Regions from separate parts of the Homo sapiens genome. Here all the other regions are linked to region 1. The links come from fine-mapping of genetic effects on plasma protein levels. A gene starts in region 1. Each other region holds a variant in brackets. All regions are shown on one strand. Distances are between the middles of the regions. Region 1 holds the start of CTSV (cathepsin V). Region 2 overlaps LOC107987104 (a long non-coding RNA gene). Region 3 overlaps LOC112268050 (a long non-coding RNA gene). Region 4 has its middle 2.9 kb from the start of ZNF782. Region 5 overlaps LOC105376166 (a long non-coding RNA gene). Region 6 has its middle 77 kb from the start of CTSV.

The links. PIP is the posterior inclusion probability: the model's chance that the variant is causal. The UK Biobank Pharma Proteomics Project read protein levels with antibody pairs (Olink). The fine-mapping took linkage between variants from a reference panel, not from the people measured, so its PIPs are less certain.
Region 2: its variant is fine-mapped to the plasma level of the CTSV protein (UK Biobank, PIP above 0.99).
Region 3: its variant is fine-mapped to the plasma level of the CTSV protein (UK Biobank, PIP above 0.99).
Region 4: its variant is fine-mapped to the plasma level of the CTSV protein (UK Biobank, PIP 0.97).
Region 5: its variant is fine-mapped to the plasma level of the CTSV protein (UK Biobank, PIP above 0.99).
Region 6: its variant is fine-mapped to the plasma level of the CTSV protein (UK Biobank, PIP above 0.99).

The regions. Positions count from the first base shown.
Region 1 is chr9:97,036,409-97,041,484 of GRCh38, forward strand. It overlaps CTSV (cathepsin V), which reads right to left and starts at 2,734. Exons shown (of 8, transcript NM_001333.4): 1 at 2,663-2,734; 2 at 1,510-1,645; 3 at 1,085-1,207; 4 at 844-990; 5 at 115-339. The coding sequence starts at 1,635. RefSeq lists a silencer at 2,769-3,078.
Region 2 is chr9:97,093,745-97,098,820 of GRCh38, forward strand. It overlaps LOC107987104 (a long non-coding RNA gene), which reads right to left. Exons shown (of 4, transcript XR_007061681.1): 2 at 1,378-1,512; 3 at 987-1,025; 4 at 1-259. It also overlaps the pseudogene VN1R51P. Among named protein-coding and RNA genes, the nearest start is that of CTSV, 57 kb to the left of the region's middle. The variant T/C (reference allele first, on the strand shown) is at 2,042.
Region 3 is chr9:97,137,956-97,143,031 of GRCh38, forward strand. LOC112268050 (a long non-coding RNA gene) reads right to left here. Exons shown (of 6, transcript XR_002956927.2): 6 at 1,914-1,999. Among named protein-coding and RNA genes, the nearest start is that of SUGT1P4-STRA6LP-CCDC180, 98 kb to the right of the region's middle. The variant T/A (reference allele first, on the strand shown) is at 2,287.
Region 4 is chr9:96,854,901-96,859,976 of GRCh38, forward strand. It overlaps a transcript of ZNF782 not described here. Among named protein-coding and RNA genes, the nearest start is that of ZNF782, 2.9 kb to the left of the region's middle. RefSeq lists a silencer at 4,967-5,076 and an enhancer at 4,967-5,076. The variant A/G (reference allele first, on the strand shown) is at 2,500.
Region 5 is chr9:97,121,739-97,126,814 of GRCh38, forward strand. It overlaps LOC105376166 (a long non-coding RNA gene), which reads right to left. Exons shown (of 3, transcript XR_930154.3): 3 at 2,561-5,076. It also overlaps the pseudogene FAM220CP. Among named protein-coding and RNA genes, the nearest start is that of CTSV, 85 kb to the left of the region's middle. The variant A/T (reference allele first, on the strand shown) is at 2,858.
Region 6 is chr9:97,113,495-97,118,570 of GRCh38, forward strand. No RefSeq gene overlaps it. Among named protein-coding and RNA genes, the nearest start is that of CTSV, 77 kb to the left of the region's middle. The variant A/G (reference allele first, on the strand shown) is at 2,301.

The DNA of each region.
Region 1 (5,076 bases):
GATGTAGATTCTACCATATAAAATGTGAATTCTGAAAAAAGTATCTGTTATCTCTGAAAGTGTTCCACTTTCCAAAAGCAGAGCACGAATGACAAGATAAGGAGCTCCATTTACCACTGCTACATATGGATAGGATTCCTCAGAGTCCAGGCCTCCGTTCTCCTTGACATACTGGAAGGCCCTAGCCATGAAGCCACCATTGCAGCCCTGATTGCCTTGAGGACGCGAACAGTCCACCAGATTCTGCTCGCTCAGTGAGACAAGTTTCCCAGTTTTCCGGAACATCTGTCCTTCAAGAGCACCAGTCGCACTAAAAGCCCAACAAGAACCACACTGTTTCTAAAAAGGGAGAAAAAAAAAGCTGTAAATTTACAAGACCAATACAAATACAGTACCCCATAATTGAATTACCTTAATATTCTTTAAAAAAAAAAAAAACCCATCGCCACACTTTGGGAGGCCGAGGCGGGCAGATCACTTGAGGAGAGGAGTTTGAAATCCGCCTGGCCAACATGGTGAAACCCTGTCGCTACTAAAAATACACAAAAATTAGCTGGGCATGGTGGTGAGCACTTGCAATCCCAGCTACTCGGGAGGTGGAGGCAGGAGAATCTCTTGAACCCAGGAGGCAGAGGTTGCAGTGAGACGAGATCACGCCATTGCAATCCAGCCTGGGCAACAAGAGCTAAACTCCGTCTCAAACAAGCAAACAAAAAAAACACCAAAAACCAAAAATACAAAAAACCCATCACCATATGTTGTGCCACCATCTACCACAGCAATGACACCAATTCCTTCTTGGCTTTCCTGTGGAGACAGGGTCTGAATCTGACGCTGTCTCACCTGATTCTTCACTGGCGTCACGTAGCCTTTCTTTCTCCAATCCACAGATTTGGGAAGATCAAGAAACAGAGGCTCACGGAACACTTTCCCCTTCCTGAATTTCTGGTTTCGAAAGCAACCCATCATCTGCCTGAATTCTTCATTGGTCTTCAAGGAGAAGTAAATAAAATGTTAAAAGCAAGACTATTTTGGTGAAGAACTGAGAAGCAGCACAGAGTTCAGCAATCCTTGCCACACTCACCATGTCACCAAAAGCATTCATGGCCATTGTGAAGCCATGTTTCCCTTGGCTGTATTCCCCATTGTGCAGTTCAATCATTTTCATATTCTTTTCCCACACTGCTCTCCTCCATCCTTCTTCATTCTAGAGGCAAACATATAGCTGGTGGACTTTATGTCTACTTACCCAACCCATGTTCACCAAGCCGATTTGCGGGCAGAAATGGAAGAGAAACCATGGCCAGGGATGGGTTGATACTTCTCTGGGAGCTGTTCTCCAAGCCAAGACACAATGGAGATATATGCCCATATTGCACCTATAATGGGTGCTGTTAGGTTATTGCCTGGTAAGGTCTGGTGTCTAGAAGCTACTCTCTGGCTATCAACTCCCAACAGCGAGGACCATTCTCTCCAGAGTCCCTCTGGACAGTTTCAGATGTTACCAACCGCGCCATATAATCTTCTGTGTGTTGCCTTCCACTGGTACCACTTTGTATCCAAATTTTGGTCAAATTTTGGAACAGCGGAGGCTATTCCCAAGCAAAAGGCAGCCAGGACGAGCGAAAGATTCATGTTTCAAAACCTAGAAAGAGAAAAGAAATGAGTATCTGATTAGACCAATCCTAAAAAGCCATCTTACAGCCCCCGTGGAATAGAAATATTTCAATTATTCTCCCTAGCATTTCCCCAAGGACTGTGGAAGAGGCTGAAACAGGCCAAGTGGAGGTATTTGATGGGCCCACCAAAATTAAAAGCAGCCTGCAGAGTTGGAGGCGTTGAAACAGCATATGCGATAATTTAGGGTATGAGAAGGGTGTGAAAGATACCTGACGGGTGAGAAGCTTAAGGCAACAACTAGAAAACTAGGAAAGAGTTGGTCCAGGTTTTGCACCAATTGTACTGAGGTCATCCAGGCAAAACCTCACTAATGAAGACGTACCATCCCAAGTAGATGCAAGCGGATCCCCAAGGAACACCACCTCACACCTTCTTGGCTGATACACAGCAGGAGATGAGCTATGTCTTCCAACCTCTCCTTTTGGAATAAAACCTTTCGGGAATCCCTTTCCAGGAGACACTGGGAAGGAGAGCACCCACTATTCCCGCCGTCCCACACTTGGGTCTGTGCTACTCGCTCCCCTAAACCGGGGCAGGGTCACAAGGCCGCGCCGCTGGAAGCCAGGGGCCCCAGGGCCAGGGCCCGGACCGAGGCAGGCAGCTCCCGGAGCTCCGGGCGGGCCAGGACCGGGGCCGCACCGCCTGCTCTCGCCCTCTGCACGCGCCGCCGCGCCCCGAGAATGTTTGCGGCGGTGCAGGGAGCGGGGGCTCCGCGGCCAGGCTGGGGGCATGAAGCCGCCCGGTCCGGTCCGGCTTCAGCCCACAGGATGACTGACCTGCCCCGCCCGGGCCCTCCCAGTGGTGCCGGCGCCTCCCTGGGGTCTCCAACCGCCCTCCCCCGTTCCCCACCTCGAGGCTGGCAGAGCTCCGGGCAGAAGCTCTCACTCCCAGAAGCGCCCGCCTCCTCTCAGTGTCCCTAAAGGGGGGTTCCCTCCTCCAGTCCCCCTTCGCCCTGTCCCTCGGTCTGGTCGGGGGCGCTCACCAGCAGCCGTCGCAGCTGCGCAGGCACCCTCAGCAAACAAGCCTCTGAGATTACAGACGTCCGCGGTCTGGTGCAGGTTCGCCCGCCTCGGGATTTAAGTTTCCAGGCGGCCTTCCCCGCCCCCACCGCCTTCCCGCGCTGCGATTGGCTGTGCCGGCCACTGGGCGGGGCCCCGGGCGCTTAGAGCCCGCGCGTGACGCAGCCCAGTCCCAACCCGTCTCAGGTCTGGGCGCGCCTACCTCAATACACCCTGGCTGCGGGAAGCTGGGCCGGGCGCCCGGGGGCTGCGCGGAGGAGGGGGAGGCGCCTCCCTCAAGGGCTCAGATCTACTGACTATCCCGACTTACTGCGCTGAGCGGGTGGTTTACAGCGAGCTCTGTGTGGTATTTCAGTCCCTACTTTAACTTAGTCCTAGAGTTTTTGGTGAAAATCTGCAGGGCCGGGAGCCAGGGTACTCTCGTTCAGTGGCTCCTGTTTAGTCCACGGCAAAGGTGGGACGGAGTGGAAGAACGCACAGCCCCCAGCAGAAGCATTACCTTCCACTTAAGGGTGGGTGCATCAGGGCTTTAGAAGAATCTGGTAAGGAAAGGCACTCCCAAAACACGGGATGGATGGTCGAGACCGGACACCAGGAGGGACGGGACTAGCTGATAGGGTGTCCAGAGACCGCGGAGCGTTTTGTGGTGCGTCCTTCCCAGTCTGTTGCATTCAGGAATTCTTCCTTCTCCCATGTCTTTCAATACCAAAAAAAAAAAAAAAAAAAAAAAAAAGAGTTACAGAAATATTTGGTTAATAAAAAAGAGAAAAGCGTTGAGAATGGTGAAATAAATTGCTTTAAAAATTTTTCTTTTGTAGAAATGGAGTTTGGCTAAGTTTCCTTAGGCTGCTCTTGAATTCCTGGCCTCAAGCGATCCTCCCCTCTCAGCCTCCCAAAAGTGGTGGGATTACAGGCGTGAGCCACTACGCCCAGTCTGAGAGTGGTGGAAATTGCTTTTACTTACCTACTCTCTGCTTATGGGTTACAACGTCTCTTCCTCAGTATTCAAAGTGTGCTTCTTTTGAGATTTAATAAATTTACTTTAAAAATGTTTAATACCGGCCGGGCGCGGTGGCTTACACCTGTAATCCCAGCACTTTGGGAGGCCGAGGCGGGCGGATCACGAGGTCATGATATCGAGACCATCCTGGCCAACATGGTGAAACCCTGTCTCTACTAAAAATGCAAAAATTAGCTGGGCGTGGTGGCGGGCGCCTGTAGTCCCAGCTACTCAGGAGGCTGAGGCAGGAGAATTGCTTGAACCCGAGAGGCGGAGGTTGCAGTGAGCTGAGATCGTGCCACTGCACTCCAGACTGGTGACAGAGCGAAACTCTGTCTCAAAAAATAAAAATAAAAATAAAAATATATAATATCAGGGTTGAGGTGATGCAGTTTGAGGAACTGCTCTTTATGGAGAAATATATGTAGCTAAAGATTTAAGGAAATCATTAATAATTCAGAAACGTTTCTAATTCTTTTTAAAGTTATATAAAAAAATCCATTATAAAAAATATGTTTTAGAAAATAAACGTCCCTTGTGCCCTCTCCATAACCCTTTTCTAGGCATATCTTTTTTTGTTTTTACAAAAATGAAGTTATAATGCATATTGATTAATAAACTCTTAAAGATTAAATTGAATAATATCCACAGTTTTTACTTGTTAATTTGAAAATTTGTGAAATCAAGTTTAGCCTAAAGCTGCCTCCCCATGTGATTTAAGTTTGGCCTAAAGGTTTCTCTGTACATAGCGAATTGTAATCTAAATGGAGGTGTAAACAGACTGTAGCCTGCTCTTGTGCCTATCCCCGAATTTCTGTAAATCAAAGAGGTTCAGTTGTTCAAACCATGTTCAAATAAGGCAAACATGGAGCTGTATCCAATCCTGCAGTTTCTGTGCCTCACTTGCCCTTTTCTGTCTATAAATCTTCCCCCATGTGGCTGCACTGGAGTCTCTCTGAGCCTACTCTGGCACTGGAGGCTGCCAGATTCACGAATTGTTTTTTGCTCAATTAAATTCTCTTAAATTTAATTTGGCTATGGATTTTCTTTTAACAAATTAAAAACAATTAAACTGACAACTTTTCAGAAGCACCATCAGGCAAATACATCTTTTTAAAAATCAATTTATTAATAATTATATGTCCTTCCTTTAAATAAATAGCAGCTTTTCCCTCTCAAATACAACTAGGGGCCAAAGCTGTCAGGTGGTTATATAAAAAATACAAAAGTATATTGTATTGCAGGCCAAGGTAGGTGGATCTCCTGAGCCTGGGAGTTTGAGACCAGCCTGGGCAACATGGCGAAATCACACCTCTACCAAAAATACAAAACAAACAAACAAAAATTAGCCAGGCATGGTGATGCATGCCTGTAGTC
Region 2 (5,076 bases), 57 kb after region 1:
AGATTTTGAATTCAGGATAAGACTTTCTCTACCAATGAGCAAAAATGGACCAAAAAATGGGGTAACATGAGGAAATCAAATCTGAGATGGTCCACAACTGATCCCTTTTCTTCACCGTACTTAGGTAAATGCTGTGGCACGAGTTGCTCACATTAAATACAACGAAGCAAATCATAAGCAGCAGCGCAGTCGTGATGGTTCCGGTCTCATGGGAGGCTATAGAGGAACAGCTGTTGTTGTGAAGATGTGGATTATTTTTCTGGTGTCTGTGAAGGAAAATCACCAAGTAGCCACTGGCTCAACTCATGAGAACCAGAAAAATTAAGTCCTGGAATGTGATAACACTCGTATGAGAGACAGCAATTGTGTTGCCCATGTGTGGTGTAGCTAAACACATTTTTATGGAGAGATTCTTGGTGACACTGCCATATTTGATAGTGTCAACAAATGGCACAAGCTTGATGTAGATGAGACTGTTGATGACCCAGAGTGTAAGAAGAAGCACAGTGGTGTTTTGAGCATTTTGTCTTTCAGCCACGTCCACCTGGATTTGCTGGGGCTCCCACGGAGGGCCTGCACCATGCTTAGGAGGTATGTCGTACATAGGGGAAGTCCCCAAGATACTCTATATAAAAATTCAAATTCCCTACATCCAGTATAATTCAAAAGATTTTTAGTGTTGAAAGATTTTACTGCCAATGGAATAACTTTGCGGAGAAGTGTCATCGTATTAGCAACAGACAAGTGAAGGAAAAGCAAGCCCATGGGCTTCTTCTGCTGGGGACATATCAAAAAGGTGTAAATAGGCATCAGGAGTAGCAGTAAGTTCCTCCAAATCCCAATGTCAATATGAGAGAGGAAAAAAATTTCCATAATTGTATTGCTGGAAAGCATGGTGTTACAGGCTCTCAGAATGATACAAATATTATATTTCAGCCTGAAAAGACTGAAAAACATCAAATTAAAAGCAGAACACAAAAGGATACATGTCCCAGGGAGAAAGGATTTCATCTCTTATGTAGTTCCTTTAAAAGGGAATACGAAAAGAATAGAACTATATTAAATATCATGTTGGAAAGTTCCATGGTAACCAATTATCCCTCTCAATGTTCACAGGTAATTTTGGGATATGATGTAGGCCAATAGGAAATAATGAGTATTTCCATAGCAAATAAGCCTTCATTTATGACACACATTTATTTTGGCAGTAATAATTAGTCTCTCTCCAGAACCCAGAATAAAATGAGAAAAATCAAGTGGGTTTTGATCTGCAGTGCCATTTATATTTGGTAAGATTTCTCATTACATTAGTCAGTCTGAAACAAATTACAGTGGAGTGTGGCAGGAACATGTATTATGAACTAAATAAATACTCACTAATGCACTCATCATCCGGTTGGATGAAAACGTTCAGTGTCTACTCTGATGGAAGCCAAAGATGCTGATCATAATGAAGTCAAAACCATCAGTACCTGATTCACACTCTTACATTTCCTTAAAAATACCAGGAGGCTGAAACAGAAAAGTGGAAAAGAGAAATTAAAGATAAATTTATAGAAGGTTTATAAGTGATAAAAACATGAAAAATAACTTTTTCAGTTATTAAATCAATTCAAATGGAAACAAATAATTTTGCTCATCAATTTGTAAAAGTTTCCAAATTAATCTGCTTCAAAAATGAAAAGGTCCAGTAAGATAATAAATTTTCCTATAATGCTAATGGGGATCAAGTGTTGATATCTTTGGCAAAGCAATTTAAAATACATATTAAAAATTTGAAGACAATTGTACAAAAATAAATAGCCTTCACACATACAAATTACAGTCAGAAGCTATAAGGGCAGAGATAACTACATTTACAATAGCAATAAAACATACTTAGGAATAAACTTACCAAGAAATGTACAAAGCCCATAAGAAGAAAACTGTAGGTCAGGAATTGTGGTGCATGCCTGTAATCCCAATGCTTTGGGAGGCCAAAACAGGAGGATTGCTTGAGCCTGGGAGTTTGAGACTAACCTGGGCAACAAAGTGAGACCCT[T/C]GTCTCTACAAAAAATAAAAAAAATTAGCTGGGCGTGGTGGTGCACACCTGTGGTCCCAGCTACTAGGAAGGCTGAGGCAGGAGGGTTGCTTGAGCCCAGGAAGATGAGGCTGCAGGATGCTGTTTCATGCCATTACACTCCAGCTTGGGCAACAGTGCAAGACCCTGTCTCAAATACAAAAAACAGCAACACACACACCAAAAAAACACTGTAAAACATTTCTAAAAAACATAAAAGTGGCTTGAACAGATGTAGAGACATTTGGATAGAAAGCCTCAATATCATCAGTATGTCAGTTCTCCAGTAATTTAGCATATGAAGTCAATGCAATCCCAATTGAGATAACAACAGTAGTTTCTTTTGGTTGGGTTTTTGGATCTAGACAAGTTGATATTGAAGTTCATATGGAAAAATAATCACAAGGGTAGAAAAATACTATCAAGAGAAACGAGGGGGATTAACATCACCACATATTAAGCCAACTGCAAAGACTATATAATTAAAACAATAATAATGGCCCACGACTAAACAAATAGATGAATGAGATAGAACTAAAATCAAGCACACAAATAAAATCCAAATATTATGGAAAATTAGTAAATCATAAAAAGTTCATATCTCAAATCATTGGGCTAAAAAGGGGAATTTTTAAGTAAATGATGTAGCCATTTATTTTTCCAATGGCATAGCCATTTGAAAAAGTCGGATTAGTTTCCCACACTATACACAAGAACAAACACCGTAACGATGGGAAATATAAAGAAACAGTCATGCATGGTCTCTGTTCTGGCTGCTTGAACTCTATCTGGGAGCAGTGCAATCTAGAATTCTCCATTCAACCCCCAAGTGCTCCTCTCCCTTTCGCTCCGGCCCCTGATTTATCCTCTCTGAGCTCTCAGGGTCCTGCCTTGTGTCCTTGTGCATGTGCAGCTTAGTGTACAACCAGGACATCACATGACCTGCATGCAATCCTGGGGATCCTTCCCTGCCCCATTCTTTCCTCTCTGGTGACTTTCCACATAAAATTCAGCCACTTCAAAAGCCCCAACATCTGATAGGTTTCATCATCCCACAAGATCTCTGCTCTATGTTTGGGCTCCATTTCCTGGCTCATGGCTCTGTTCCCTTCACTTAAGAATTATAGTCATTCAGCCTGGCCAACATAGTGAGACTCCGTCTCTACGACAAATTAGCCAAATGTGGTGGCGTGTGCCTGCAGTCCCAGCTACTCAGGAGGCTGAAGTGGAAAGATTGTTTGGGCCCGGGAGGTCAAGGCTACAGTGAGCTGTGATGGAGCCACTGCACTCCAGCCTGGGCCAAAGGGCAAGATTCTGTCTTCAATAAATAAATAAAAGGAAGAAAGAAAATAAATAAATAAAAGGAACTGTAGTCTGTACTGTCTGTTTTTCAAAACCTGGACACAGTTGCTTATTTTCTTCCCCTTTGACAATTGTTGATGGTGAAACAATAAATCTGCTACTTATTCCTCTGAGAGGGCTGGGCCGCCCTCTCTCTTTTTTTGTTATTATATTTACAAATTGAAGATATCATGTCACTATTACTGTAGAATTTTCTTTTTTTCTCTTTTTTAATTTTTCATTTTTTAGAACAGGGTTTTGCTGTATCACCCAGACTGGAGTGCACTGGTGCAATCATAGCTCACTGTAACCTCAAGTGATCCTCCCACCTCCGCCTCCTAAGTAGCTGGGACTACAGGTGTCAGCAACCACATCTGGCTAGATTTTTATTTTTTTGTAGAGAGAGGGTCTCACTATGTTGCCTAAGCTGGTCTTGAACTCCTGGCTCCAGCAATCCTCCCGCCTTGGCTTCCCAAACTGCTGGGATTACAGGGATGAACAATTGTGCCTGGCCTGCCAAGTTTTTCATAATCTAGATTTGACAGACAGTTTTACTCATGGTTTCACTTTACTTGTATCTCCATCCTCTATATTTTGCATGGACTTTTAAGTGTATCTACAAATTTGATATATTTCATTTTTGTCTTATTGAGAATATTTCATATATAGTACTGCGTACTTCCCTTTGCATCAAAACAGAAAGCACAATATCTGTTTAGTGATATTAAAATTGATTATTGGGTCCAAGTATTATCAGCCTGAGTCATCCGTTATACAGATTCCTCATCAACCTGTTAAATGCTTGGTATTCATTCATGTTTGTTGCTTAGACATAGTCCTCATTAGAGTTACAAAGTAGTGATTTTCTAATCATACTGTTTCTCCTCTGTTAATTCGCTGAAATGTTCTGGCACTAGAATATTCATTAGTGAACCTCATTCCTAAGTAGAAGAAACACAATGAACAAATTCAAATGACAACTGGTAAGAGAAGAATGGAAAATCTGCAACTCTTACCAGATACAAAGGGCGAATTTCAATATTTTTGGGTTCTAAAAATGATCAAGATATAAAACAAAAACCCAATAGAAAACAATGTGCAAAGGGTACGAGGTTACAGTTCACAGAAAAAGAAAATAAAATGACTCTTAGAGGAACATATTTTCATACATATGTATAATGAGATAAATGCAAATCAAAACTTCAATTCCATTTCTTTGACAATTAGAATGACTAAGACTAAAATTTTAATTAAAAAATTTATGGGCAACATAATAAGACTGATTTCTTAAAAAAAGGTAGCCATTCATTTCTGTTGGTAGAGTTGTTGGGTAAAATGTACTTTCATAACATTTCCTACAAAAGGTACATTTTTCTCTTACCATTTCAGTCAACTGTTTCATATTCACAAATTTATCCTCTAAGTATACTTGCATATGTGTAAAATTTTTATTTAAAAAGTTATTCACTGTAATAAACTTTTCACTGCAATGAATGTTCATTCATTTTCTGTAGTAGCAAAAGACTAGGGCAACCCATTAATTATGGATTGAATACACAGAGTATATCAATACATGAAACGATACAATTTCATGTATTTATTTATTGATTTATTTATTTTTATTATTTTTTTTTTTGAGACAAAGTCTTGCTCTGTGGCCCAGGCTGGAGTGCAGT
Region 3 (5,076 bases), 100 kb after region 1:
AGGGATTTCTTTTCTTTCAAGGTACAATGATGGTACAGGTATTGGGTAAGCTTTCTCAATCCAAAGGGAAAAAATTTCCCAGAAAAATAATACAAATGCAAGTCCAAATCCAGCAGGACAGTATTCACTCAATCTTAAAGCTCCATAATCATCAAGAGAACTCACTATCATGCAGACAGCATTAAGGAGATAGTGTTTAACCATTTGTGAAGGATCTGCCCCCCATCCTTATCTTTCAACCCCACCCCCAAAATAATCTCAACCATTCTCCCCACACCCCTACCTCCAACACCCAGGCTTCAACATGATTAAATCACCTTCCACCAGGTCCCAACTTTCACGTTCCCCATTACAATTCCACATGAGTATCGGTAGGGACACAGAACCAAATCATATTATTCTGACCCCAGTTCTCCCAAATCTCATATCTTTGACACACTGCGAAGTACAATGATGCCTTCTCTACAGTCCCCCAAAGTCTTAACTCCTTTCAGCATTTACTGAAGTATCCAAAGCCCAAAGTCTTATCTGACACAAGGCTGCAGTCCCTTCTGCCCCTGAGCCTCTGAAATACAAAGTAAGTTAACTACTTTCAAGGTACAATGATTGTACAGGCATTGGGTATGAATTTCCAGCCAAAAGAAAAAACTTTGCCAGAAAGCAGCACAAAATACAGATGAGACTTACAGATCTAATGCAAGTCAAAAACCCAGCAGGCCAGTCATTCCATCGTACAGCTCCAAATCATCTCTTTTTGATCTAAATCCCACATCCAGAGCACAGGGGTGTGATGGCTGGGCTCCCAAGGCCTTGGGTAGCTCTTCACCTGTGGCTTTGCAGGGTCTTTCCCCCACAGCTGCCCTCATGGGCTGGGCTAGTGTTGAGCACCTGTAGCTTTCCACACTGAGGGTGCAAGCTGTTGGTGGGTCTATGAATCTGGGGTTTGCAGAATGGTGCCTCCATGTGTGGGGATTCCAACTCCATATGTTCCTTCTGTACTACCCTAGAAAAGGTTTCCCATGAGGGTCTGCCTCTTGGAAAAGCTTCTGCCTGGAAACCCAGGTTTTTCTGTACATGCTCTGGAGTCCAGACGAAGGCTCCCAAGGCTCAAGCCTTTTGCTCTGTGCACCTGCTGGCTTAACACTATGTAGAATCCACCAAGGCTTGCATCTTGTACCCCTGAAGCAGTGACTCAAGCCATACCTGTGCATCTTTCAGCCATGGCTGGAGCTGGAGCTGCAGGGATGCAGGTAGCTGTGTGCTGTGGCAGAGCACAGCAGTGGGACCTTGCAGCTGGCCCAGGAAAACATTCTTCTCTCTCAGGCCTTAGGGCCTGTGATAGCAAGGGCTGCTGCAAAGGTCTCTGAAATGCCTTCAAGGCCTGTTTCCCATTGTCTTGGCTATTAGCACTGGACTCCATTTTATACAAATTTCTGAAGCTGTCTTGGATTTTCCCACCGAAAATCAGCTTTTCTTTTTGACCACTTGGCCAGGCTGCAAATTTTCCAAACTTTTAAGCTCTGCTTCTCATTTAAATTTAAGTTTCTACTTGAGGTCATTTATTTGGTCACACCGAAGACCACAGGCTTTTGGACACAGACAGGATACCTCTTGAGCTTTGCTGCCAAAAGTTCATGTCTGTGATTTAGATACACCCTATGATTTAGATACACCCTAAATCATCACCCTCAAGTTCAAAGTTTCATAGGTCTCCAGGTTAAGGGCATCATGCAGTGATATTCTTTGCTAAGGCAAAACCAAAGTAACCTTGGCTCCTGTTTTCAGTAAATTCCTCATTTTCATCTGAGATCTTGTAAGCCTGGCCTTCACTGTCCATCCTTCTGTCGCCCTTTTAATTATAACTATTTAACAAGTCTCTACAATGGTCAAAACTTACCTTCATCTTCCTGACTTCTTCCAAGGCCTCCAAACTTTCCAACCTCTGGCTGTTACCCTCTTCTGAACCTGCTTTTACATTTTCATCCATCCTTGTTGCAGCCTATCAATGTGGTAAAAAGAAGAAATGTCCATTTTCAAGGGAAAAATTCACAAAGGGATCCGATATCTGCATGAAGAGAAGCTGAGTGCTGATTGCCAAGACAATAAGACAAAAAGGCCTTGAAGGCATTTCATAGCTCCACTTCCGAGCACTAATTTTCTGTAAGATCATAAAGAAAAGAGGTTGAACTGGCTCATGGTTCTGCAGGCTTTAAAGGAATCATAGAGGCCTCTGCTTCTGGGAGGAATCAGGAAGCCTCCCAATCATACCAGAAGACCAAGCGGCAA[T/A]GGGATGTTTCATATGGCAGAAGTAGGAGCAAGACAGAGAGAGGAAAGAGGTGTGACACCCTGTTATACAACCAGATCTCACGACAACTCACTATGACAAAATCAGCATCAAGAAGATGATGCTTAATCATTGGTGAAAGATCTGGCCCCCCCCAACACCCCCACCCCACTACTGTTTCCATGTAGAAGCCTGTTGCAGAGCCAGAGCCTCTTGGAAAACCTCTACTAGGGCAGTGCAGAAGGAAAATATGGGCTTGGAGTTCCCACACAGGAGGTTACCATCCTCCAGACCCCAGATTCATAGACCCACCAACAGCTTGCACCCTCAGTATGGAAAAGCTACAGGCACTCAAGGCCAGCCCAACCCATGAGAGCCGCCATGGGACTAAACACTGAAAGCCACAGGTGCACTGCCTTAGTAGAGGTTTTCCATGAGGCTCTGCCTCTGCAGGAGGCTACTCCCACATCCTACTACCCACCAGCCTCTCACCACTTTACTGCCAACCTACTCCTCCCCACCCTACCCCCTCCTTTTTTCTTCTACCCCCAACTCCCTCCCATCCATGATTCAATCACCTCCCACCAGGCCCCACCTCCAACATTTGGGAATACAATTTCCCATGATCTTTGTAGGGAAACACTGCCAAACCATATTACTCTGACCATAAAATCCCTGAATCTCACGTCCTTCTCACAGAATAAAATACAAACAAGCCTTTTCAAAAGTTTCCAAAAGTCTTAACTCATTCCAGCAGTAACTCAATGTAAAAAGATTAAAGTCTCATCCAACACGAGGCTGCAGTCCCTTCTGCCTAAGAGTCCCTGAATGTAAAAGGGAGTGCTTCTCTTTCAAGATACAATGATGGTACAGGCATTGGGTAAGGTTTCTCAGTCCAATGGGAAGAAATTTTCCAGAAAAATAACACAATTGGGACACAGGTCCAATGAAAGCCCAAAAACCTGGAGAGTATGTATGCATTCATCATGAGAACTCACTTTCACATAGACAGCATTAAGGACATACTGTTTAACCATTTGTGAAAGATCTGCCCCCCAGCCCCATCTTTCACCCCCACCCCCAGCCTAAACCCCCCAAACTCACCACACCCTCACTTCCAATCTCAACTGTCCACCATGATTAAATCACCTTCTAACAAGCACCACTTTTAACATTCCCCATCACAATTCTACATGAGTTCTGGTTGGGACACAGAGCCAAATCATATTGTTCTGCCCCTGGCCTTCCAAATCTCATGTTACTCTCACTTTGCAAAATACAATTATGCCTTCTCTACAGTCCCCCAAAGCCTTAACTCATTCCAGCATTTACTCAAATGTCCAAAGCCCAAAGTCTCATCTGAGACAAGGCTGCAGTCCCTTCTGCCCCTAAGCCTCTGAAATACAAAGCGAGTTAACTACTTTCAAGGTACAATGTTTGTGCAGGCATTGGGTAAACATTCCCAGCAAAAAGGAAGAAATTTGCCAAAGAAAGAAGCACAAAACACAGATAGGACTTACAGACCCCATGCAAGTCAAAAATCCAGCAGGCCAGTCATTCCATCATACAGCTCTAAATCATACTTTTTGAATCTACATCCTACATCCAGAGCAGAGGGTGGTTTGATGGCTGGTCTCCCAAAGCCTTGGGCAGCTCAGCACTTGTGGTATGGCAAGGTCTTTCCCCAAAGCTGCCCTCATGGGCTGGGCTGCTGTTGAGTGCCAGTAGCTTTTCAACACTAAGGGTGCAAGCTGTTGGTGGGTCTATGAATCTGGGGTCTGGAGAATGGTGCCTCCCGGTGTGGGGGCTTCCCACCCTATATGTTCCTTGTGTACTGTCCTTGTAGAGGTTTACCATGAGGCTCTGCCTGTTGGAAAAGCTTCTGCCTGGAAACCCAGGATTTTCCATACATACTCTGGAGTCTAGATGAAGACTTCTACGTTTCTAGTCTTGTGCTCTGTGCACCTGCTGGCTTAACACTATGTGGAAGCCACAAACGCTTGGAGCTTGCAACCCTGAAGCAGTGACCCAAGCTGTACCTGTGCATCTTTCAGCCATGGCTGGAGCAGGAGCTACAGGGATGTAGGCAGCAGTGTCCTGAGGCTGCACACTGCAGGGGACCATTGGGCTGGGCCAGGAAACCATTCTGTCCCAGAAAACCATTCTTCTGTCCTAGGCTTCAGGGCCTGTACAGCAAGGGCTGCTGCAAAGGTCTCTGAAATGCATTCAAGGCCTTTTCCCCATTGTCTTGGCTATTAGCACTGGGCTCCATTTTATGCAAGTTTCTGAAGCTGTCTTGAATTTTCCCACTGACAATCAGCTATTCTTTTTGACCATTTGGCCAGGCTGCAATTTTTTAAACTTTTAAGCTCTGCTTCTAATTTAAATATAAGTTTCTAATTGAGGTCATTTATTTGGTCACACAGAAGACCAGGACACAGACAGGACACCTCTTGAGCTTTGCTGCCAAAAGTTCATTCTGCCAGATACACCCGAAACCATCACCCTCAAGTTCAAAGTTTCACAGATCTCCAGGTTAGGGGCATCATGCAGCGACATTCTTTGCTAAGGCAAAACAAATGTAACCTTGGCTCCTGTTTCCAGTAAACTCCTCATTTTCATCTGAGACCTTCTAAGCCTGGCCTTCACTGTCTATCCTTCTGTCAGCTTTTTAATCACAACTAACAAGTAATTACAATGGTCCAAACTTTCCCTCATCTTCCTGTCTTCTTCCAAGCTCTCCAAACACTCTAACCTCTGGCCATTACCGAATTCTGAACCTGCTTCTACAT
Region 4 (5,076 bases), 180 kb before region 1:
TTTTGTAGAAATTTTTTTTTTAAAAAAAGGGATCACTACTGAAGTATTTAGCATTGAAATGATATAACTTTGAATTTACTTTACAATTTTATACATTTTCAACCTGGAACCTCCACCTTGTCTCTTTACAGCCTACCCGACCCATTGACCTGTGAGCCCTGTCCTGGCGCCCCCAGGCGTGAGGGTTCTAAGGCGGGTCGAGCCCGGTGCTGCAGGTGTTAGAGAAAAGCTTTTGGTTTTTATCCCTTAACATTGCTTCTTGCCGAATTCTCTTATTGATTCAACATATTTAAATTTAATGTTAATTATCTTAGGTTTCCATGCGCATTAACGAATTTTCTTGCTTTTTGCTGATTGTTTTTTATTTCCGTAGGTTATTGGGGAACAGATGGTGTTTGGTTACATGAGTAAGTTCTTTAGTGGCGATTTGTGAGATTTTGGTGCACCCATCACCTGAGCAGTATACACTGCACCCCATTTGTAGTCTTTTATCCCTTGCCCCGCTGCCCTCCGCCATTCCCCGCCAAGTCCCCAAAGCCCATTGTGTTATTCTTATGCCTTTGCATTCTCATAGCTTAGCTCCCACTTATGAGTGAGAACTACGATGTTTGGTTTTTCCACTCCTGAGTTACTTCACTTAGAATAATAGTCTCCAATCTCATTCAGGTCGCTGCAAATGCCATTAATTCATTCCTTTTTATGGCTAAGTAGTATATCATCAGATACATACCACAGTTTCTTTATCCAGTTGTTGATTGATGGGTATTTGGGTTGGTTCCACGTTTTTGCAATCGCAAATTGTGCTGCTATAACCATGCATGTGCAAGTATCTTTTTCATATAATGACTTCTTTTCCTCTGGGTAGATACCCAGTAGTGGGATTGCTGGATCCAATGGTAGTTCTACTTTTAGTTCTTTAAAGAATCTCCACACTGTTTTCCATTGTGGTTGTACTAGTTTACATTCCCACCGGCAGTGTAGAAGTTTTCCCTGTTCACTGCAGCCATGCCAGCATCAACTATTTTTTGATTTTTTGATTATGGCCATTCTTGCAGGAGTAAGGTGGTTTTGATTTGGATTTCTCTTATCATTAGTGATGTTGAGCATTTTTTCATATGTTTGTTGGCCATTTGTATATCTTTTTTGAGAATTGTCTATTCATGTCCTTAGCCCACTTTTTGATGGGATTGTTTGTTTTTTTTCTTTGATGAGATTGATTTGTTTGAGTTCGTAGTAGATTCTGGATATTAGTCCTTTGTCAGATATATAGATTGTGAAGATTTTCTCCCACTCTCTGGGCAAAGTGAACAGCTGAGTAAAGATTAAAGGTGAGCTGCGAGGTGTTGTTACCTCAGAGGGTGCTCTGCAGAAGAGTATATCCATGAGCTACTTGAACTCTTTAAATCAAAACAAAAGGAAAAAAGTTTATTCTAAGCAAGTTTATTTCTTGTCTGATGGTTATTAGATGGGAGAACATTGCCAGATCTAAGCTACCAACCTCAAAAATGTTTTCAAAAACAAATGGTTATTGAACATCACATTTTACAGAGATTCTGCTCCCTTTCTCCCGCCCTCCCCAGAGAGAGCAGTCCTGCATGCGAATGATCAAAGGTCAGTCTTAGGACAACAATGAGAAAACAAGCTATTTAGATAAACTCCTCTACATTCCCTTGTTATTTGCTTTTTACTATTAACTCAAGGTAAGAGGATCAGGCTGCCTTCAGCCATAACCCTTTCCTAAAGCTTTTGCAAAACCTTCTGGCCTTCCAAGAAGGTTTGCCCAGTTCTTTGTAGGACAGATGATTGATAGATGTAAAGTAATTCATGAGTAACCCTGCTTAGCAGGGTTAGAGGAATCCCAGGGATACATAGACTGGCAGCTGTTTCCACCTTAAAACCAACAGAATTGTCTAAGTTGCAGATGATGTAAGACAGAACAATTTTTATGATGTGATCATGAAGATGTGAAAAATAGGGGCTGTAAGAAGGACCATTCTTTATACACGTGCATTCCTTATCAAGCCAACAACTGACTATGGGGAATGTTTTACAACCTCAGAGACCTGCGCCTGCCATGCTGCTCTGCACAGCAGCCACTGGGGGGCTCTCTTGACCGCAGTTTTTTAAGCTAGTGCCCTATATAGAAGGGTAAGTTTTTGTGAAAAGATTAACATTTGCTCACTATCACATGGGTTTTACATATTCAAGCTTGACGTACTTGTAAAGTTCCCATCTGCCTACCAGCTAGGTGTCAGACATTACATGTGGTAGGCACTTGAGGATTTACTGAATGACTTTAAATCCACACTGGGCCTGTGTGTGTGCTGCCTTTTATGAGTGTGAAGGTGACAACACTGCCTCTTTTCATGATGCCCTTGGCTGAGATGACCATCATTCTTGTGACTAAAACTGGGCTGTACATTTCTATGGGCACAGTAGGTAGCAGAAGTATCTGACCTATGATTGTGATATGGCCTCTTGCTCTGCCTGATCAAGCAA[A/G]GTCTCTGTAGAACATAAGAATAAAAGGCACTTACTTTCTGGTCAAAACCAGAAGAAACCTGTCATTCCTAAGAGTTCTTATTACAGCACTCAAACTAAGCTAAATCAAAGGCCAGTGCTCTATTTTGCAGATTTACATAGAAAGACTTGAAAGTTATGCTGATATTGACATTTGTCCAACCAAACTAGAAGAGGATTGTCTTGTCACCCATTTATCTTGCTGTGGAGCGATGACCATGAGGTTGCAGGGAGTGTGAAAAACTGCAGGCTCTCTGAGAACATTTAATCTGATGACATGTGAGTTTGTAAGGTTTTTGTGAACTTTCTGATAATTTTTCAATATTTTTTTGCTCCCATAAACTTAACACTTTAAGAAATATTTTTAAAGGTTACATTGTGCAGATGATGGAAATGGACATGAAAACCACATCTTTCTATTAGCTTTAGAATAACAGTTCATAGTTTTCATTGTTCATTGGTAGGTCTTGGTAAATTGCTCTTGTAATAATCTGCTCATAAATTGAAAAGTATTTTTCTGGTGATTTTTGGCAGTTATCTTCCAAGTATACTACCAGAACATAATAGTACAGTAAATATCTTTATGGCTTTCTAGAGGCCGTCTGCAAGTTCCAGTCTCTCTTTAAGGTGCACATGTCTGGCCTTTGAAATAATTGGCCGCTGACAGGTCTAGGGCCTCTAGACTGTGAAAAATGTGTAGCTTCACCCTGAGTCATACATTGTGCATTTGCTCTTGCTGGTGTTTCCGCTGCCTTTATCTGAAGATCTGTTTTATAGAAACCTTGACATACAGAATAGCCACAGATCCCTGTGCCCCTATCCCCTCCCCCAGGAGTGTTGCCTGTGTTTAGAGATTGGGCTGATGAGTTAGAAGCTCTCCTCAGGCAGTCTGAGAAACATTGCATTGCTGGACATCACCCAATGCTCACCTCACTCAAGAGCTTCCTAGGGCACTCATACAACCACAACAGCACTTTGGGGTCCTTGAGTTACCTATGAGAGTGCAATAAATCTTGCTGAGTCAGGGGGTTGCTCACAGATGGCACCAACTGGACACAGAAACATGAGCTTCATGGGGTCTTTCTTCCAGTCTGGCCTCATGACTGCTGTAAAGGGAAGGGCCTTGGAGCTGGTAGGCAGGGTGAGCCAGGGAGGCATTTTTAGCAAAGGCTCTCAGAGTGCCCACTGGACAGTGAGAATGGCTTTGTGGGTGACGCTTAGGAAAATATGAAGGAACACCTCATATGAAGATCAAGATCGTGACAGGCAGTGGCGCGAGGTTTTGTTTGTTTGTTTGTTTGTTTTACATTTGCCTGTAGGTAAGACTGTCATTCAGAATGTATGCAGCCACAGAAGTGGAGCCTGATGGCTAAGTAGAAATCTCTGCCAGCTGTGCTCCCCACAGGAATAGCCTCAGCAGTGGACCTGTGGTGAGGAGAGAGTCCGTGCTTGGCGGAGGGAGAGCACAGCAGCTGTGGGACTTTGCACTGAACTCAGTGCTGCCTTGTTGTAGCAGAAAGCAAAACAAGGTTGCACTCATCTGATGCCTCCACCCACGGAGGAAACATTTACACTAGTGCCCACCCACGGAGGGAACATTTACACTAGTGCCCACCCACGGAGGGAACATTTACACTAGTGCCCACCCACAGAGGAAACATTTACACTAGTGCTAGCCAGAAGGGAATTGTTTATCCCAGTGGTTGGAACTTGAGTTGTGGAAAGCCTGGCTACTGCAGGATAAAGTACTCGGGGTCCTTAATAAACCTGAAAGGCTGTCTAAGCCACAAGGACTGCAACTCTTAGGCAAGTCCTAGTGCTGTGCCGCGCTTGGAGCCAGTGTATTTGGGGGCATGTGACCTAGAGAAACAGCAGCTAGGGCAGCTATGGAGTGCTTGCCCACCCCTCCTCCAACCCTAGACAGTGCAGCTCGCAGCTCTGACAGAGACCTCTTTCTTCCGCTTGAGGAGAGGAGAGAGGAGAGGACTTTGTCTTGCATCTTGGATACTAGCTTACAGTAGGAGGGGGCACTGGTCAGAGTCATGAGACCCCCCTTTCAGGTCTCAGCTTTGGGATAACATCTCTAGACAAACTCTGGGCTACAAGGGAACCTGCTTCCTTGAAGGGAAGGACTCAGTAATGGCAGGATTCTTCACTATCTGACTAAAGAGCCCTTGGGCCTTGAATAATCAGCAGTGGTAACCAGGTAGTACATGCCATGGGCCTCGAGTGAGACTCAGAGATGTGCTGGCATCAGGTGTGACCCCGCACATTCCCAGCTGTGGTGTCTGTGAGGAGAGACTCCCTCTGCTTGAGAAAAGCCGAAGGCAGAGTAAAGAGGATTTTTCTGGAGCTTAGACACCAGCTCAGCTACAGTGGAGAAGAGCACCCAGTGGACTGTTGGAGTCCCTGATTCAGGCCTTGGCTCTTAGATGGCATCTCTGGACTTAGCCTGGGCCAGAGGGGAGCCCACTGTCCTGAAGAGTGAGTTCCAGGCCAGACAGCATTCACCACAAGCTGACTGAGAGCCCTGAGGCATTAAGTGAACATCAGTGGTGA
Region 5 (5,076 bases), 85 kb after region 1:
ATACAGCCTTAAGCAAAGAATGCCGATGGAGGGCCCTTGGCCTGCAGATGCACCCTCCTGGATGAATAAGCCTGCGGCTGATGGAAATTCAGAGTGAGGCATTATCACTGGAAATGAGAAAGGATCCGAGCAGGGCTGGCCTCTCGCTTCCCAGTGGCGGCCCAGTTCTTCCATATGTGAAAGAATCAGTAAGAAGAAATCCAGCCTCAGCAGCCACTCCGAGCGCAGCCGTGGGTTTGTTCCCTGCTCCAACAGAGTATTTTGCTCGGGTGTCCTGCAGTGGTGTTGAAGCTCTGGGGCGGGACTGGCTGGGAGGAGGGCCCAGGGCCACCCACGGCCACAGAGGACAGTGCCCCAAAGGAGAGCCTCAGGTGTCACGACTGCCATGCCATCAAAAACTGCCGGAAATGGGAAGTTTTCAGGATGACCCACCAAGTGCTTTTCCCAAGGGTCTGCGCTCTGAGTTGGAACCCTCTTGCCTGCATTCCATCCTGTCTGCAACACTGCAGGCGTGTCCCGAAGAGCTCCTGAATGACGAGACAAAACGCATTTTCCTTGACCGTTTAAACCCCATGTTTTCAAAGCAAACAATAGAATTCAAAAAAATGCTTAAAAGTACCTCAGATGGTCTGCAGATAACACTGGGGTTACTGGCTCTGCAACATTTTGAATTAGCAAATTCATTATGCCATAGTTAAGGTACAAGCAGAACAATACAAGTAGATTAATTTTAAGAGTTGTCTTAGAATGATTAAGGTGTGGTTTGTACGACCTGGCAGACTTAGTTGAGTTTAAATTCAAAACTGGTGGATGCGGAAGGAAATTTTTTAGCATATGTTAAATTGTGCTTTAAAAGACATATAAAGAATTGGGAAACATTTCAGGAGACGATCATAGCCTGTATAAATATCAGATTAGAACATACGGATTTACGATGAAGTTCTGTCTTCAACACCCAGCATTGTCTAAAGGGCTACTGTCCCAAATCCTGTGTGTCCCTTCAGCTTGTCTGATCACCCAACGGAAGTGGATACTTGTAAAGTCTACACCGCTGTACTTGGCGTTAAATCTTGCTGAATTTGTGGTAAGCTATTATCATTTCTACATTTTGTAGAATGATTTTGGTCTGCAGCAAAATTCTATTTCACTTCTTACACCCCTTTCCTTCCACTTGAAATGCAATTTAGACAGAGGCCCTGTGGTGAAAGTTGCAATATTAAGCTTACCTTTAGAAGATCCCTTCTCAAACTCAGAACCCTAGCAGCGTTACCTTAAAAATGAGCTCGAGAGGCCGGGCGCGGTGGCTCACACCTGTAATCCCAGCACTTTGGGAGGCTGAGGCAGGCAGATCACAAGGTCAGGAGATCGACACCATCCTGGCTAACACGGTGAAACCCCGTCTCTACTAAAAAAAAATACAAAAAATTAGCCGGGCGTGGTGGGGGCGCCTGCAGTCCCAGCTACTCGGGAGGCTGAGGCAGGAGAATGGCGTGAACCCATAAGGTGGAGCTTGCCGTGAGCCGAGATGGCGCCACCGTACTCCAGCCTGGGCGACAGAGCGAGACTGTCTCAAAAAAAAAAATGAGCTCGAGAAAAAAGTAGCTCAGTTACAGAGAAGCAAATCAAGTTATTTCCCAGATAAAAAGTTTCCCAGATTCTAGGAATTGCAGTATCTTGTACCCTAAAATTTTTCCAGGTGACTCCTTTTGTTGTCTGTTGATAACTTTAATAAAGGTCATTTAAGGGCATAAGGTTTTAAAGACTCCCAAAGTGAGACTTAACCATTTTCGGGATTAGCGATTGCATATATCAGTTTATGTTGTGTGCTTAATTACTATGCCATGTGCTATTTTAGTGTTTGGGGAAAATGAAAAATAAAATTTGTTCTTTGGATTAATAAATATGTCTTAATAAAAAATACAGTGAATGACAATGAAAATGCAACACATCAACATTTGTGGGTATGTATAAAGCAGGGTGAGAGGGAAATTCATAGAACTAAATGCATAAATTAGATGATAAGAAAATTATCAAGCCAATAATTTAAGCTCCCACTTGAAGTACGTAGAAAATAAGAGAAAAAAAAACCACTCAAAATAAGAAGGAAGGAAATAATGACTATAATAGCAGAAATCAATGAAATTTAAAACAGAAAAACAATAAAGAAAACCAATGAAACAAAGAGCTGGTTCTTTAAAAAGATCTATAAAATTCACAAACATCTACCAAGAGTGACAAAGCAAAAAGGAGAGAATTATAGATTAGAAATATTAGGCATGACACAGAAGGTATCACTAAAGACCTTGTAGATGTTGAAAGGATAATAAATGAATACTACAAACAACTCTAAACACATACATTTGGCAACTTAAATGAAATAGACCACTTTCTTGAAAAGCATAAACTACCACAACTTATCAATATAAAACAAATAATGCAAATAGCCCCACATAAGATCTCCAGGCTCAGATGGTTTCACTGGAAAATTCTGCCCAAAGTTTAAAGAATAATAGATACCAATTCTGTATATCCTCTTCCAGAGAAAAGAAAGACAGCGGAATACTTCTCAAGTGATTTTATTTATTTATCTCATTTATTATTTTTACCATTATCAGAATAATCACATTTATTTACTTCCTGTCTTATTCCACCATTTGTATGTAAATTCCATGGGTAAGGGCCTGCTCTTACGTCCCACACCTCTAGGTCTACAGAGCCTAGAGACAAAGGTGTGAGGAAAGCACTCCGTGACCCTCCCTGGCCAGGCCACATGAGTTCTGGATCTGAATTTAGAGCCACAGACTTTAAGCACTAAAATAAACCTGAGGTTTTCCAGAGGCGTTTAACTTTCTCCTTT[A/T]ATAGACAAGAATGCACCTAAGAATGGAGAGTGGCTTCCTGCAGTAACCCAGCCACTCAATAGAGACTAAGCCCACAATGACCTGAGTCAAAAAGTCTGCAACCTTTTCCCCCCAAATCCCACCTTCTCCTTCTCTCAACTCATTTTTAAAAGCTAGTATTACCTTGATACCAAAAACAAAGACAGTTAAAAAAAACAAAACAAAACAGGAACTACAGACCAATATCCCTCATAAATATAGACACAGAATTAAGCAATATGTAAAAAGAACTATATGCTATGAGCAAGTGCAGTTTATTCCTGGAAAGCAAGGCTTGTTCCATATGTGAAAATCAATGTAACCTACCATATTAACATGATGAAGAAGAGAATCACATAATCGTATCAATTGATGCAGAAAAATCATTTGACAAAATGCATGATAAAAACTCTGAGAAATCCCAGGTGTGGTGGCTCACACCTGTAATCCCAGCACTTTGGGAGGTGAGGCGGGTAGATCACATCAGGCCAGGAGTTTGAGACCTGCCTGGCCAACATGGCGATACCCTGTCTCTACTAAAAATACAAAAAAATTAGCCAGGTGTGGTGATGCATGCTAGCTACTTGGGAGGCTGAGGCATGAGAATCACTTGCACTTGGGAGGTGGAGGTTGCACTGAGCTGAGATTGAGCCACTGCACTCCAGCCTGGGTGACAGAGTGAGACTCTGTCTGAAAAAAATAAAATAAAAATAAAAACTCTGAGAAAAATAACAATAGAGAGGAACTTCCTCAATTTGATAAAGAGCTTTTACAAAACCTCCAACACTTAACATTATACTTAATGGTCAAAGAAAGAATGCTTTTCTCCTAAGAAAGGGAATAAGGCAAAGATATATGCTCTTACTACTCTAATTCAATACAGCACAGGAAGTTTTAGCCAGTTCAGTAAAGCATTTAAAAAAAGGCATATTGATTGGAAAGGAAGAAATAAAACTGTTCACTTTTGCAGATAACATGATGGCTATGTGGAAAATCCAAAGAAATCTATTTTAAAACACCAAAATCAACAACTCCTAGAACTAGTAAGTGAATTCAGCAAGGCTACAGGATACGACATAAATATACAAAAAAATCAAGTGTACTTTGAGTGATGAACGCTTGGATATAAAAATTAAAAATACAATAAGTACCATTTATAATTGCTCAGAAAAGGAAATACTCATTTCAAATTCTAACAAAACATTCATAAGACTTGAATGCTAAACATTAGAAATTCTGATGAAAGAAATCAAAGATCTAAACAAATGATGAGACACATCATGTTCTTCAATTTGGAGACTCAAAATAGCAAAGATGTTAATTCTCCCCAAACTCATATATACAATTCCTACAAAAATTTCAGCAATATTTCTTGTAGATGAATACAAGATTATTTTAAAATTGTCTTGGAGATGCAAAGGAACTAAAATAGCTAAAACATTTTTGAAAAAGAATTACCAAGTTGGAAGAATCAATCTATCCCATTACAAGACTTATTGTGTAGCTATTGTAATCAACAGCACGTGATATTGGTAGAGTGAAAGATACACAGACAAATTAAACAGAACAGAGAACTCAGACCCACATAAATATAACTGACAGGTTATTGACAAAAGCATAAAAGTAATTCAGTGTGGGGAAAGGAAGTTTTTTCAACAAATATTGCTGGAGCATTTGCATATCCATAAGCAAAGTTGAATGGTGACATGAACCTAACACTCCATACATGAATTAATTCAAAATAGACCACGGACTTAAATGTAAAACTACAAATCTTTTAGAAAAATACATTAAAACCCTTCAGGACCTAGGGCCAGGCAAAGAATATTTTAAACTTTACAACAAAAGCATCATCAATAAAACCAAAAATAGATAAACCGGACGCTATCAAAATTAAAGAAAAAAATTTTGTTCTGTGAATGACCTTGCTAAGAGTATGAAAAAACAAACTACCAACTAGGACAAAATGTTTTGAAAGCATATAGCAGACAAAGGATTAGTATCTAAATTACATAAAGAACTCTTAAAACTCAATAGCAAAACAAACAAACAGAAAATGGGCAAATGATATGAACACGCATTTCACCAAAAAGCACAGACAGATGTCAAATAAGCACAAGGAAGGACATTTAACATCATTTGCTATTATGAAAATAAAAATTAAAATTATGATGAGCTATTACTATACACATATGACAAT
Region 6 (5,076 bases), 77 kb after region 1:
AAGATTAAGTATTGAAAAGCTGCCAAATGTTACAAATTCAATTTATTGATAGAATTGTATTCAAGGAGCTAATATGTTATAAAAAAAAGATATTCTGAAATTAATTTGGAGTAATAAATAGGAAAGTATAATCAATAAGTTACACTGGAAAAGTTCATCATGAAAAGAAAAGTTCATTCATGAACTTTTGTATATGCAATGCATTTCATGTAGTAATAAAAAAAGATAAATAATTAAGTTATGAGTATAGAAATAACCTGATAACTAAAAGAAATAGAACACAGAGAAAAGAAAATAATTATATTATAAATAAAAATAAAGTACCTGATAATTTGATGCTATAAATTTGGTGGAAAATTTAGAATAATTTACTGAATGGTGTTGTGGAAACCAGGTAATTATTTGGAGGCTATAAAGTTGTTTGACAATTTTTACATACAAACAAAATAAGTTCTTAACAGCTGGACAATTAATTATGTTATAATAGAAATTTCATGTTTTTTGAGAGGTCTTAGGAATTCTTAAGCAAATCAAAAAAGAAAAGAAAGAGGCCAGGCGTAGTGGCTCACGCCTATAATCCCAGCACTTTGGGAGGCTGAGTCCGGCGGATCACTTGAGGCCAGGAGTTAGAGACCAGCCTGACCAACATGGTGAAACCTCGTCTCCACTAAATATACAAAAATTAACCAGGCGTGGTGGTGCACATCTGTAATCCCAGCTACTCTGGAGGTTGAGGCAGGAGAATCACTTGACTGGGAGGCAGAGTTTGCTGTGAGCTGAGATCGTGCCACTGAACTCCAGTCTGGGAAGCGGAATAAGACTCTCTCAAATTAAAAAAAAAAAAAGAAAAATTAAATGGATTAAATTAAAATAATTAGAAATTCTTCATGCATAGCACAGCATAATTAAAAAGAATAGACAAACTAGAAAAATATTTAAAAATATATGAGAAATACAAGGTTAAATTATTACATGGACCATTCATAAATCAATGGCTAAAGACAGAATGCACAGAAGAAAAAATGAGGAATATATGAAATTACTTGCAACTTCATGTTGAAATGAGAACATTTTGTAATACTTTATGCCATCAAATTGGTGAGGTAACATTTTAATTTACAAATCTGCTGTTGTAAAAATATAGCAATATAATTATACTTTTTTCTTTTACTATTGGTGATTCACTTGTGGAGTGCAACTTGGCTACAGGCTTCAGTATTCTTAAACTGTTTTATACCCACCGATCCCCCAAATTCAAGTACTAAAATGTAATTGCCAATGTGATAGAATTAAGCAGTTGGGCCTTCAGGAGGTGATTAAGTCACGAGGGTGGAGCCCTCATGGATGGGTTTAGGGCCTTTATAAAAAGATTTGAAAGAGTGAGTTTGTCCCATTCCATCCCTTCCACCATGTGAGGACACAGTGTTATACTCCTCTGGAGGATGCAGCAACAAGGCACCATCTTGGAAGCAGAGAGCAGCCCTCACCAGACATCAATCCTGCTGGTACCTTGATCTTGGACGTCCCAGTCTTTAGAACCATGAGAAATCAATTTCTATTGTTTATAAATTGCCCGGTCTGTGGTATTTTGTTTTGGCAGTAGAAATGGACTAAGACAATCCCCCAAATTGTTTTTTAATATTCCAAGAAATAATCAGAAGCATAAATAATGACTTAAAATAACTTGATAATTCTATTTTGATGAAAATAATAGACAACACACAAAATAGGAACATGGTGCAATGAGCTATAATAGTATACTATGTTGCTATTATTTTTTGTTATTGTTGATGACAATGATATATTAGTTTGCAAATTTTGTTCAGTGCTGGGAATTGTTTTCAGCATTTTATACATAATAGGATATCAGTTCTCATACACCCAATGAAGTAGATATAATCCCCTTTAAGGGTGAAGGAAATGAAACTCAGGGTGCTTAAGACTATTCCTTAAAATCACATGGAATGTAAAATGATAGAGGCTGGATACAATCACAATCATTTTGACTATTTTTTAAAATACTTTTTGTATAAAATTTTTCAAAAACCACAAATGCAGAAAAAATAAGAGGGTATGAACCTCCACTAAACACTAAGAGGACACACAACAAAAGAACTATGTGCAAACAAAAAGCACAAAACTATGTGCATCAAGGGACACACTCAACAGAGTGAAAAGGGAACTCACGGAATTGGAGAAAAGTCTTGCAAATCATAAATCTGATAAGGGATTAATATCCAGAATAGATCAAGAACTCCTGTAACTCATCAACAACCAAAAAACTCAATTAAAAAATGAGT[A/G]AAACTATTTCTTCAGAGAAGATAAACAAAAGGCCAATGAGCACATGCAAAGGTACTCAACATCCTCCATACTTAGGAAAATGCAATTCAAACCCACAATGAGATAGCACTTCACAACCATTAGGATGACTACTATGAAAAAAACAGAAAATGGCAAGTGTCAATGAGGATGTGGAGAAATTAGAACCGTTGGGCATTGCTGCTGGGAGACACTAAAATGAGACAGCCATTGTGGAAAACAGTTTGGTGTTTCCTTAAAAAGTTAAACATAGACTTGTCATAGCTATCAAACATAGAATTATTCTATGATATTATAATATAGAATTATCAGCAACTCCACTTCTAGGTATATATACGATGAACTGAAAGCAGGTACTAAAGCAGATACTTACATGCCAATGTTCATTGCAGCATTACTTACAATAGCTAAAAGATGGAAACCACCCAAGTGTCCACAAGCAAATGAATGGATAAAGAAGATGTGGCATCACATAGGATGGAATATTATTCAACAATGAGACGGGAAAGAGTTCTGACATTTGCCACAATATTGGTGAAACTGAAAGCATTATATGCTACATGAAATAAGCCCAACACAAAAAGACAAATACTGCATGATTCCATTCTGTGAAGGAGCTAGAATTAGTAAATTCATGAGTAAAAGGAGATAGAGGTTACTAGGGGCTGAGGAAGGAGGAACTGGCAGTTGTTTAATGGATACAGAATTTCAGTTTGGATCAGGACAGTGATGTTGGTAGCACAGCATTGTTACTGTAATTAATGTCACCGAATTGCACAATTAAAAATGGTAAAAATGACAAATTTTATGTTATGTATATTTTAGCACAGTATAAAAAGGAAAAAAAAATAATGAAAGTGTCCACCATGAAGGGCTGCTGTGAGGACTAAATGAGCTGTATACATAAAAGGCCTGGCCCAGAATGAGCACTCAGAGATGTTTTTTATGCGAATAAAATGTTAGACAGGTTCCCCAAGCTTCATCTGCGTAAAGTTTTAACATGATCTCTGGATGCTTGTCAGATAATTCTCTAGATTAATTACTTGAAAAGCATTACACACACACACAGTTTTGTGATCTGCTTTTTTCAACAAAACAAAATATTGGAACAAAATTTCATGTTACAGTTCTCCATCTAGATCATAATTGTAAATAGCTAATTGTGTGGTGATAATCAGAGTGATATTTAACCAATCCCCTATTCTGAAATATTGAGGTGGTTTTCCACTTGTCATTGTTTGAAAAAAACCACGCCAAATGTGTGTATTTACAATATTATTCCCTTGCCAGATTTTCTAGAATACATATCTAGAAATGGAATTACTGACTCAAAGAATATACGTATTTTTAAGATTTTGATTTCTGTTACCACTGGAACTTTGCTAAAATAATTTTACTGAGAAAGTGAGGTGGTACATTTTTGTATGAGGGTCATGTTGTTTAGTTTTTAAAAATTGCAGTAAAATACACTAAAGAATGCAGTTCAGTGGTATTAGACATTTATATTGCTCTGTTACCATTACCACTATCCATCCTCACAACTCTTTTCATCTTGCAAAGCTGAGACTTTGTATCTATTAAAAATAACTCCCAAATGAGTTCAAAACTTATGTCCACACAAAGACCTAAACACAAATTCTTATAGCAGCTTTATTCATTAAGTGCTAAAGCTCAGGAGCAACTTTGATGTCCTTCAGTAGATGAATGAATAAATAAACTATGGCACATACAGACAATGGAATATTCAGCACTAAAAAGAAATGAGGCTGAGGCAGGAGGATAGCTTGAGGCCAGAAGTTAGAGACTAGTCTGGCAACATAGCCAGACCTCGTCTCTACAAAAATGTAAATAATTAAAAAAAAAAAGAGTTGGGTGTAGTGGTGCATACCTATAGTCCCAGCTGCTTAGGCAGCTGAGGTGGGAGAATTGCTTGAGGCCAGGAGTTTGAGGTTACAGTGAGTTATGATGGTAGCACTGCACTCCAGTCTGGGTGACAGAGTGAGACCCTCTCTCCATGAAGAGACATGGAGAAACTTTTTTTTTATTTTGGTATTTTTTGTAGAGACAGAGTTTTGCCATGTTGCCCAGACTGGCCTCAACCTCCTGGGCTCAAGCCATATGCCCACCTCAGCCTCCCAAAGTACTGGGATGACAGCATTGAGTCACTGTGCCTGGCTGCAAAACAGGAAGTTGGGAAGCATATCACTAAGTGAAAAAAAACCAATCTGAAAAGGCGACATACTGCATGATTCCAATTACACATTATAGAAGAGGCAAAGCTATGTAAACAGTAAAAAGATCAGTGATTGCCAGGAGTTAGGGAGAGTGAGGGATGAACAGGTGGAGAACTAAGGGTTTTGGGGGTCAATAAACAATTCTGTATGATACTGTTAAGGTGGATACATGTCATTATTATATTTGTCCAGATTTACAGAATATGCAACATCAAGTGTGAACACTAATGTAAACTATGGACTCTGGGTCATAATGATGTGTCAGTGTAAGTGCATTGATGGGAACCAATGTAACACTTTAATATAGGATGTTGACAGTTGGTGAGGCTGCGCATGTGGGGAAGGGGTAGAGGATACATAGGACCTCTCAGTACTTTGGGCTCATTTTTGCTTTGAACATATAATTGCTTTAGGAAATAAAGTCTGTTAAAAGGTGTTTTTTAAAAAGATAATGAATAGGTACAAACACTAAGATGACAAAGAAATTCAAGTGATTTGATAGATGTTTTAAAGCAGTCATGAT